Regions from separate parts of the Homo sapiens genome. Here region 2 is linked to region 1. A link means that fine-mapping ties the variant in region 1 to the expression of a gene that starts in the linked region. Tissue or cell type: NK cells. Region 1 holds a variant in brackets; the other region holds the start of a gene. All regions are shown on one strand. Distances are between the middles of the regions.

Region 1 (5,205 bases):
CCAATGTCTGCCCCTGACGGGATTAGTGACTTCAGGACAGCTGGAACATTCGCAGTGCTGTTTCCTTACGATGGGAAGAGACATGATCTTGACTCTGCTTCTGTAGGAGATGGTGATGAGGAGTAGCTGAAAGCTAGATAGGTTCTTTAAAACCTGTGACAGAAATGGCGTGTGCCAGGCCTATCTGTTTTGCAGGAGCTTTTACAGCAGCCCAGCTGTTTCCTTCTATGAACTCATTTATTACTCCCTTCGTCCACTCATTGGGCATTACTCTATGGGGAACACGGTCCTATGAGCCAGACAAAAAAAAGCTGAATTGTCTTAGTCCCTTAGTTTTGCTCTTCCCAATTCCCTTCATCATCCTTCCATAAAAGGAGAAGGGCCATTGTTCTCCCCAGCCCCTTTCTTTTTTGTCACATTTTCAAAACTCTGAGCGTAGGGTGCTATGAAAAGGCTTACGAGAAGGGATGAATCACCCCCATGGTTGAAAACCCACCGAGCAGCTGTCAAGGTTTATAATTGTCCTCCATGAACCCCTGGAACCCTTCTAGGACCCCCTTGGAGATGCTCATTACTGATTAGAAAAAAAAAAGTTTGGGTACGATTAATTCCCAGCGCCAGGTAGAAACAAAACCTTTCCAAAGCTGTTACTGTCAGTGAGAAATTCACCCTGGTGGTGTTGTTTAGGATATCAGATATTCTGTGCCTCTTGCCCCAGAAGTGTCTGTTGTGGAAAGGGCTGAAGAATTTGAATCTCCAATATAAAATGGAGAATAGACATGGGATAAGAAACAGGAAACACATCTGCTGGTCTCTCAGATAATCTTTTTTTCTTAATGTATTTTTCCCCTGATTTTGGGAACATGCATGTTAATGGGAGGAAACTTGAAAAAAAAAAAAAAAAGACAATTCCAAAAAAGAAATAAAAGTCAAGTATAATCTTATTGCCCAGAGATTGCACTGTTAACATTTTTATACATATTTTTCCAGTTAAAATGCACATAATACTTTTTTCTTACAGAACTACTACATTGTATGCATATTGCTTTATAATCTGTTTTTTCTCTTTAATAATATGGTGTGAACACTTTCCCATGAGATTAAGCCTTCTTCTGACACATAATTTTAATGACCATCTAGTATTCCATCGTATAGATGTTAATTTAACCAATACCATATGGTCGAACATTTAGTTGTGTCTATTTTTTTGCTAGTATAAATAACACAATGTAGACATTGGGGAGACTGACTCAGGCTGCTCCCTTGTTCTGGTCATAAGTCACTTAGTCCTTCCTTAAAAGCCATTGGTCATTTGATGGGCCAGACAGACTTCACAACCCTTGCTCCAAACACAAGGACAAATTTAATCTACTCAAGCTAGGAGTGGCCTTGGATGTTCTCTTAATTCCACAGAAACACTGATGTAAAAAGACAGTTATACTCAATTCATTTGTTCATGGATGCATTATTTCAGACAAAACAGGCTCCCTTGACTGATTTCCCTTTGGCCCTGGTCTTCTTTTCTTCAAGGCAGGCAAGCTTATTGTAACAGCAAAGGAAGCGAAATGCCTTTAGCAAGGTAAACCTGTAGAAGCAACTGGAAGCATGTATTCCAGGGTGAATCATTTTTAAATCATCTTCCATGTTTAGGATTTTCCATGTAAGTGTTCTGCTCCATTAGAGTGGATAATTGGGAGGGAAGAGAATAAACGTTCCAGCGCTCCTAACATGCTGAGGCATTTACCAAAATGCTGTGGTTCATCTAGGCAGAGGGGAAGGCATCGGCTCAGGAGCACTGAGTAAATACTCAGTGGAGAAACTGGGGCAAAATCTAGGCTACTGGATCCTAGTTTGTCTCAGCCTCAAGAAATTCAAGCTGCCACAGTGGGTGGCGGGGTGCCTTAGTTCACCTCCTGTTTCCACGTCCCTGGTCCTTTAGCTCAGCAGCAAGCCAGGGAGAAAATGTACTCCATGGTGGAGGGCATGGGCTGTGTGCCTGGGACATTTGGTCTGGGGAGGGGCACCTGAGCAGGTCACCTGTCACTCCATTGCCCCCTTTCTCATTCTTGTGGCCCTACACACATCTCCAGTGGCCATTGGATGAGATTGCTAAGGACAAAATTCTCATTGGAATGGCAAAGTCTCATACTTGTAATCCTAGCGCTTTGGGAGGCTGAGGTGGGTGGATCTCTTGAAGCCAGGAGTTTGAGATCAGCTTGGGCAACATAATGAGACCCCACCTCTACAAAAAATTAAAAAATTAGCTGGGTATGGTGGCACATCTGTAGTCCTAGCTGCTCAGGAGGCTGAGGT[G/C]GGAGGATTTCTGGAGCCCAGTTCAGTTCAGCTTGGGTGACAGAGCAAAATGTTGTCTCTAAGAGAGAGAGAAAAAAAAGGAAGTCAAAGTCTAGGCCCTTTTGCCTTTCTCTGAGGCCCTGAGGCTTCCTGAAGAGGATGGTTGAGGAAGACCTGATGGAGAGTTCAAGGGGTATGGCATAGGAATGTACATAACGGTAGACATGTGCAAAAGAATGCGGGTGGGGAAGAAGTATTCGTGTGTGCACACACAAACTCTCTCTCTTGCTCTGTCTCTCTTTTCCTTTTCCTCTCTCTCTCCCCCACCGCCTCACTCACTCATAGCTTAATGGGGTTTCTGGGAGAGGAAATTGTGGTCTCAAATGCATATGAAAAGTCCTGGAACAAGCTCTCAAAGGCGTGTGGGGGTGGGGAGCACGGGGGGTGGGGGAATCACAAGACTGCCCTTGGGCAAACATTTTTGTCCCACCTCTCTTTTCAGCTGTCCTAATGTGTCATCAGACACCCCTGCCCAGCCTGACAGGCCCACATACACAAACAAAGTGCCCCAGTGAGCCATTCCTTTCCCAAGCCGCTGAGGGGTCTTCTGGGAGTTGGAAAGGATTCTTTCTGAGCTGATCCGACACTGGCTGATGAGCTCAGCTGTCTCCTCTTCTAGGAAAGATTTACTGCAACAGAGCATGGCTGCCTTCCATCCCCCTTCCCAGCCGTCTTTCTTCCAAGCCAGAGACTGAGGTTGGGGAGTTGACAGAGGGAATGCTGGGAATAGACCAATATTTCTTCCCTGGGTGATTTGAGGGGCTGCACAGACAGTGGGAGCCTCTCTTTGTGCCCATAATTAGACAATAGTGGCATCACTATAAATGCCAGCCCTGATACATTCCCCACTTTCAGCCAGCCCAGGTGCCAGGCACCTGCATCTTGGCCTCTGGAGACTAAGAAGGAAGGGTCCCATGCCCATTTGCCAACCTTTTATACTAATGATGTGAATTCCCTCTTGTCCCATTGGATTTCATCTCTCCCTCCCCATCAAACCACCTACAGAGACAGGCCCTAATCAGTTCCTACTACAATTTTCTTCTGTTTGCCACTGGGACAACTTGTCCCCTACCTGCAGCTTCTGCCCACTCAGCATCAAAGGGCCCAATGATCATCGGCTGGCGAGAGCTTGAGAGCCCACCAGAGAGCCCATCATGGGCCTGGCCCTGTTCCAAGAGCCTCTCACATATTAACTCATTTAGTCCTTAGAACAATTCCATGAGGTGGGCAGTTATGATTCCTGTTTTCTAGACGAGGCTACTGAAACCCAGAGAGGTTCATTAACTTGCCCACGGTCTCACAGCTAAAGAATGGAAGATCTGAACTTAGCAGCCTAGCTCTGGAGCCCTGCCCTCGAGGCCATGCTGCAGGCGGGAATAAATCAGTTCCAGTTCCGCCAGCCCTTGCTGCTGGCCCAGTTCTGACCTGGTGCCTCAGTCTGACAACAGGACTCTGTCTTGCTTCTGTGCCTAGGTTCCTTCTCTAGAGACCTGGTATGTTCCACTTTCTAGCATACCCTAGGATGCAAGGTCCCTCATTTCAAGTTCTGGAATCCCACCCTGAGCCCATTCTGATGGCCATGGCCATGGACCTTCCTGATCTCAGACCATAAGAATGACGTATCACTCAGTCCCATATCCCACGCAGAGCCAAGAGCACGGTGCCCTGCACACACATAGGAGCTGTTCAAATCACATTTGCCGAAGGGAATCAATGCCAAAATGCTCTGTGCCTCAGTTTCCTCATCTATACAATGAGGCAATAAGAATACATCCAGAGTTTTGTAAGAATGAATTAAGTGAATCTATGTGTCTGGCATGTGGCCAGTGAACAGTGAGGGTTGGCAGTTACCATTATCGATGTAGTGGTCGCTTCTATGATACGTGGCAGAAGAACTTTGAGCTCTAGCATTCTAATCCTGGCCCTGCCACTTCTCAGATCTATGATCTTTGGCAATTGAACCAACTTTTTTTCCATGCTCGCTTTCTCATTTGAAAAGTTGCATAGTGATACTTGTACCTCACAGAGATTTTGAGAATTATGAGATAATATGTGCAAAGTACCGTACCTGGCCCAGAAAAAGATCTCAACAAATGATAGCAAAATTATTAGTATTATGATTGTTATTATTGTAAAACTGGGGTGCATACGCTTACAACATTTGGGGCCACTCAGTATTTTTCCTGTGACAGACTCCTCTCTTTGATACACACACATACACACACACACACACACACACACACACACACATCATTGCCTACCCCTTTGTACCTCCCTGCTCACATTTATGGTGCAATGAAGACATCTGGGGTTTAGCCATTCCCCATCAGCCCTAGCTGCGGGGGAGGGGGTTTAGGAGCTTTCATTCATGGAAAGCATCAATTCCCCCCCTCCTAATACTGAGGGGACACAGTATCACGGCCATCTGGAAGGAATGGCTTGACCAGATCCTTCAGGGAGTAGGACTATCAGAGGACAGGGAGTGTGAGCTTCTCTTTGACTACCTGGAAGTCACCTGCCTCCTGAGTGTGTGCCCAGCTCCACACAGTCCTAGGTGGTGAGACAGTTTCCCCGGGCTCCATTTCTCTAGCAGGATCCAGAAGTGAAAGGAGAGAAGAGGAGTGACAGTAGGACTGTGAGGCCCATCCAGGTGGCCGGCCAATCACTTCCACATCCCAGGGGCTCAGGACTGCACATCCAGTGGCTGCTCCAGATCCCTAAAGATCTCCCCAGGCCTGCCAGAGCACCACATGGTAGCAGGACCCCACCACTCCTTAGCAACAGGGTGAGAGATCCTTGTTGCAGCTGGTTGTGGGGAACCCTTTCATTTTCACTCACAAAAATGAAAAGAAG
Region 2 (5,130 bases), 780 kb after region 1:
CAATTTAAAAAAAAAAAGAAGGAGAAAGAAAAGAACCATAGGCCACACAAGGTAGCTCACGCCTACAATCCCAGCACTTTGGGAGGCTAAGGCAGGCAAATTGCTTGAGCCCAGGAGTTTGAGACCAGCCTGGGCAACATAGAGAGAACCTGTCTCCACAAAAAAATACAAAAATTAGCTGGGCATTGTGCCGCACACCTGTAGTAGTCCTAGCTACCCAGGAGGCTGAGATGAGAGGATCACCTGAGCCCAGGAGGTCGAGCCTGCAGTGAGCTGTGGTCATGCCACTGCACTCTAGCCTGGGGAACAGACTGAGACCCTATCAAAAACAAAAAACAAACAAACAAAAAACTATAAATTCTAAACTACAAGGACTTTAACAACAACCAATTCTGCCATTTCTGCCTTAATAGGGCCACTCCCATCACTTGCCTGGACTATTGCATATTGTTTCTGGCCACTCCATTCATTTGTTCCTTAATTTACTCCTTCCACAGGCATTTAAATACACACCCTGCTGAGGTCTGGGGTACAAGAATCATTTAAGCATATTCCCTCCCCTTTGAATACTCATAGTTGAGATGAAAAGAGAGGTACACACAAATAACTACAGCCATGCAGTAAGCATTACAATTGCTATTTAAAAGTGCTATGGAAGCAGACAGGAAGAAGCCCCAAATTCGCCTGCAAAAGTCAGATCAGTGTCACAATCCTGCCTTGAGTAGCTTCCTAAAAAGTCACGATTATCCTTTAACACTTCCCATGGGACTGGTAGACCACAGGATAAATTCCAAACTTCTTAGGGTCGCAGAGAAAAACATCAAAAATTGGTCCCTCACTTCCTTCTCACTCATACATCACATTGCAACGTTCAGTTCCTATCCTTCCTGGCAGTTACTTCACCTCTCAGTGTCTTAATTTCCTTAAAACCCTTGTTTTACAGTCATATGAATTTACTACTTCATATGACTGTAGTGGAGGTTAAAGGACTCGGGGAGTGCGTGGCACATAGTACTTAAGGTCAGCAATCATCATTTAATGACTCTCACATGATCTGCCCTCCAGCCACATGGTATGTGTATTGGTAGGTCACGCATCCTGTCTCCCTGACTTCCCTCCACAAAACCTTCCCCAGAGTCAAGTCTTTTCCTCTCCAATGTTCTCATCAACTTCGCACATATCTATTCGATAATCTTATCAAAATACTATTATGGCTTGCAAGTTTGTTTGCCCCCACCGGAGCACGTAAATTCCTGCGGTGTATGTGTGCGCGAAAGCACGTATGTGTATTGCACATGAGGGGAGACGGTCAACCCTGGAGAATGAACCCTGTCCTCCTTACCACCAAGAAAAGAAAATTCTTCATGTTAGATGTTCAACAACTGTTTAGGAACAATATTAGCTAATATTTATTGAGCCCTTATTACGTGCCACACTGTTCCAAAGGCTTCGGATATTTTACCTCACTTTACAGATAAGGATACTGAGGTAACTAGTTGAGAAACTTGGGCAAAGTTAAACAGCTGACAATTGGTGTGAAGCTCGCATTCGAATCCAGGGACCGGACTCCAGATTCCACGCTCTCCAACACCACCTGAAGTGGGAGAGTCCCTCAACTTCCCCTAATGACAGGCTGCCCGAAGCGGGAAGGGGCTGGGGAGGAAGATGGGCAGCAACAGGCGGAAACATCACCCAGAATCCCCTAAAAAGAGCTTTTTCCAACAATGAGCAGCTTCCAAGCATTCCCCACCAAAAGAAGGCCCGAAGCTCCCCCAATTCACAGCGGGGTTCTTAGTGACGATCCCGAGTCTTAAGGGGGCGTGACCAGCACCCAAGAGAAAATCTCCGCTCCCCCAATATCGAAACCCACGAGCCTAGGGAAGGAGCAGGAAATAATGAGCGAACCCCACTTCCCCACAACGGCACCCCACATGAAACTTTCCAGTACCGGGTCTGCAGCATCCAACTTTCAAGTTTCCCCACCCTTTACACAGTTTCCCCGCGGAAAACGCCGCAAAGCAACAACCGAAGCACTGATTGAGTCGTCATTCTGGCTACTGTATCCAATCAGAGGCCGGCAGAGGCCCAGGTTGGCTCCGCGGCTTGCTGGGAATTGTAGTTAATACTATGATCAGCCTAACAGATCGAATCTGAAGCAGTTTCTCAATATAGTGATTATCAAAATCTGTTGCAGGACCATCACCAAAGAGAATGTGAAACAAGGGAACACCCTGTTTGGAAATTTTTCTTTTTTCTTTCTTTTTTTTTTTTTTTGAGACGGGGTCTCGCTCTGTCGCCCAGGCTGGAGTGCAGTGGCGCGATCTCGGCTCACTGCAAGCTCCGCCTCCTGGGTTCACGCCATTCTCCTGCCTCAACCTCCCTAGTAGCTGGGACTACAGGCTCCCACCACCACGCCCGGCTAATTTTTTTGTATTTTTAGTAGAGACGGGGTTTCACCGTGTTAGCCAGGATGGTCTCGATTTCCTGACCTCGTGATCCGCCCGCTTCGGCCTCCCAAAGCGCTGGGATTACAGGCGTGATCCACCGCTCTCGGCCCTGGAAATCTTTTTTTTCGTGTATCATCACTTTTCACAATGGCTTAAAGGGGCCAGACGCAGTGGCTCACGCCCGTAATTTCAGCACTTTGGGAGACCGAGGCGGGAGGATCACTTGAGCCTGGGAGTTCGAGACTAGCCTTGGCAACATAGTGAGACACCCTCCCCCACCCCTCCGCCTCTACAAAAAAATACAAAAAATAGGCTGGGCGCGGTGGCTCATGCCTGTAATCCCAGCACTTTTGAAACTGCCCGATGGGTTCACCTTACCAGCTGCCTAGACAGAACCGATTTATCAGGACAGGGGAATTGCAATGCAGAAAGAGTAATTCACGCAGAGCCAGCTGTGCGGAAGACTGAAGTTTTATTGTTACTTAAATCAGTTGTCCCGAGCATTTGCGGATCGGAGTTTTTACCAATAATTTGGCTGGTAGGGGCTTAGGAAGTGGGGAGTGCTGATTGGTCAGGTTGGAGATGGAATCATAAGGGGTCGAAGTGAGGTTTTCTTAATGTCTTCTGTTCCTGGGTGTGATGGCAAAACTGGTTGCGCCAAATTACTGGTCTGAGTGGTGTCAGCTGATCCATGGAGTGCAGGGTCTACAAAATATCTCAAGCACTGATCTTAGGGCTTGCAATAGTGATGTCACCCCCGGGAGCAATTTGGGGAGGTTCAGACTCTTGGAGCCAGAGGCTGCATGACCTCTAAACTGTAATTTCTAAACTTGTAGCTAATTTGTTAGTCCTGCAAAGGCAGACTGGTCCCCAGGCAAGAAGTGGGTCTTTTCGGAAAGGGCTGTTATCAATTTTGTTTCAGAGTCAAACCATGAACTGAATTCCTCCCCAAAGTTAGTTCAGCCTACGCCCAGGAATGAACAAGGACAGCTTAACGGTTAGAAGCAAGATAGAGTCGGTTAGGTCTGATTTCTTTCACTGTCATAATTTCCTCAGTTATAATTTTGCAAAGGCGGTTTCACTTCGGAATGCTGAGGCAGGCAGATCACTTGAGCTCAGGATTTCGAAACCAGCCTGGCCAACATGGCGAAACCCCGCCTCTACTAAACATACAAAAATTAGCCAGACATGGTGGCAGGCACCTGTGATCCCAGCTACTTGGGAGGCTGAGGTGAGAGGAGCCAGACATTGCCTCAAAAAAAAAAAAAACCTTAATGGGCCAGAAAGCCATGTTACTTTTCTCAGGAATCGAGGACAATCCACCAATCACAGAAGAGTTTTTGGAAGAAAACGTTTTGTTTGTTTTAACTTGCTCTTTTCACCACCCTTTGGTGATTAAATAGTTTGGGAAATGCTGAATGAAATTACTAAACCTGAAACACACATAGTGAGGAAAGCTGAGAGTCTGTGATTAAAGCACACCAGGGAAACCAAACAAAAGGCTTGGTGTAAGGCAGCTGTGGTGAGCAAACCTAGTAAGCCGTTACTTCAAGAGTTGGTTTCAGGCTGGGAACGGTGGCTCACGCCCGTAATCCCAGAACTTTGGGAGGCCGAGGTGGGCGGATTGCCTGAGGTCAGGAGTTCGAGACCAGCCTGGCCAACATGGTGAACCCCTGTCTCTATTAAAAATACAAAAATTAGCCGGGTGTGGTGGCGCGCGCCTGTAAATCCCAGCTACTCAGTGAGGCTGAGGCAGAAGAATCGCTTATCCCAGCTACACAGTGAGGCTGAGGCAGGAGAATCGCTTAAACCCGGGAGACGGAGGTTGCAGCGAGCCGAGATCGCGCCATTGCACTCCAGCCTGGGAGACAGAGCGAGACTCTGTCTCAAAACAAAAGACTTGGTTTCAGATTATTGTGTTTGCGAAAAAGCCTTTGCTCATTCTTTGCTCTCTGATCTCTTATGCATACTTCTGTCTTATAATTTAGCCCACCGTCTCCTAATTTTTGGCCTGCATCTCCCTTGAGAAGAAGGACCTCCATTTACTCAACTTAGAGAATAGGGCCTAAGCCCGGTGTAGTGGCGCGCGCCTCTAGTCCCAGCTACTACAGGAAGGCTGAGGCTTAAGGATTACTTGATCCAGGAAGTTCGAGGCTGCCATGAGCCGAGATCACACCACCGCACTCCAGCGACAGAGAGACTCTGTCTCTAAAAAAATAAAATAAAGCCTAGCACACCGTTCAATTAACAGTTGTAGGGTAAATGTGCAAATAAATGAATGGAGTGAAGCAGAAGAATATGGAAATTCAGACCGCAGAGTTCCGGAACAAAAGAGCCCAGTAGATAGAATAATAATGGAGGAGAACCCAGTTCTCCTAGCTCCGGGTATCCCCCGCGCCTGGCAAAACACCATCACTGGTTGGCGTTCAATAAATGTTGACTTCACATGTTAAGGAGATAAGAGAGTGGAAGAAAAAAAAAAATCCAGGGTCACAGTTCTTCCTGCCACCTGCTCGGCCGAATGCAGAACTGAAAGTATTGAGCGCCGGAGCTGTCACAATTGAGGGAGATGGTCCGCAGCCAGGTAGCTGATTTCCTCTTTCCGAGCTTTCTAGCTTTCCCTACTCCCGGAGAGGTGGCGTCACGTGACTCAAACAAATATGGCACTTAATTTTCATCTTCC

Alleles and levels. Positions count from the first base shown, and alleles are read on the strand shown. Sizes are in standard deviations (SD) of each study's normalised expression.
In carriers of allele G in region 1, the expression in NK cells of the gene that starts at base 2,023 in region 2 tends to be lower than with C alone (large effect, 0.87 SD a copy in Gilchrist 2021).

The links. PIP is the estimated chance that this variant, and not a neighbour inherited with it, causes the effect.
Region 2: RAD51B starts here. The variant in region 1 is fine-mapped to the expression of RAD51B in NK cells (Gilchrist 2021, PIP 0.95). The same link has a PIP of 0.9 or more in sun-exposed skin.

What each region holds. Positions count from the first base shown.
Region 1 is chr14:68,591,651-68,596,855 of GRCh38, reverse strand. It overlaps a transcript of RAD51B not described here. Among named protein-coding and RNA genes, the nearest start is that of RAD51B-AS1, 91 kb to the left of the region's middle. The variant G/C (reference allele first, on the strand shown) is at 2,314.
Region 2 is chr14:67,816,672-67,821,801 of GRCh38, reverse strand. RAD51B (RAD51 paralog B) reads right to left here and starts at 2,023. Exons shown (of 11, transcript NM_133510.4): 1 at 1,949-2,023. RefSeq lists enhancers at 875-1,636, 1,896-2,190, 4,681-4,780, 4,831-5,000.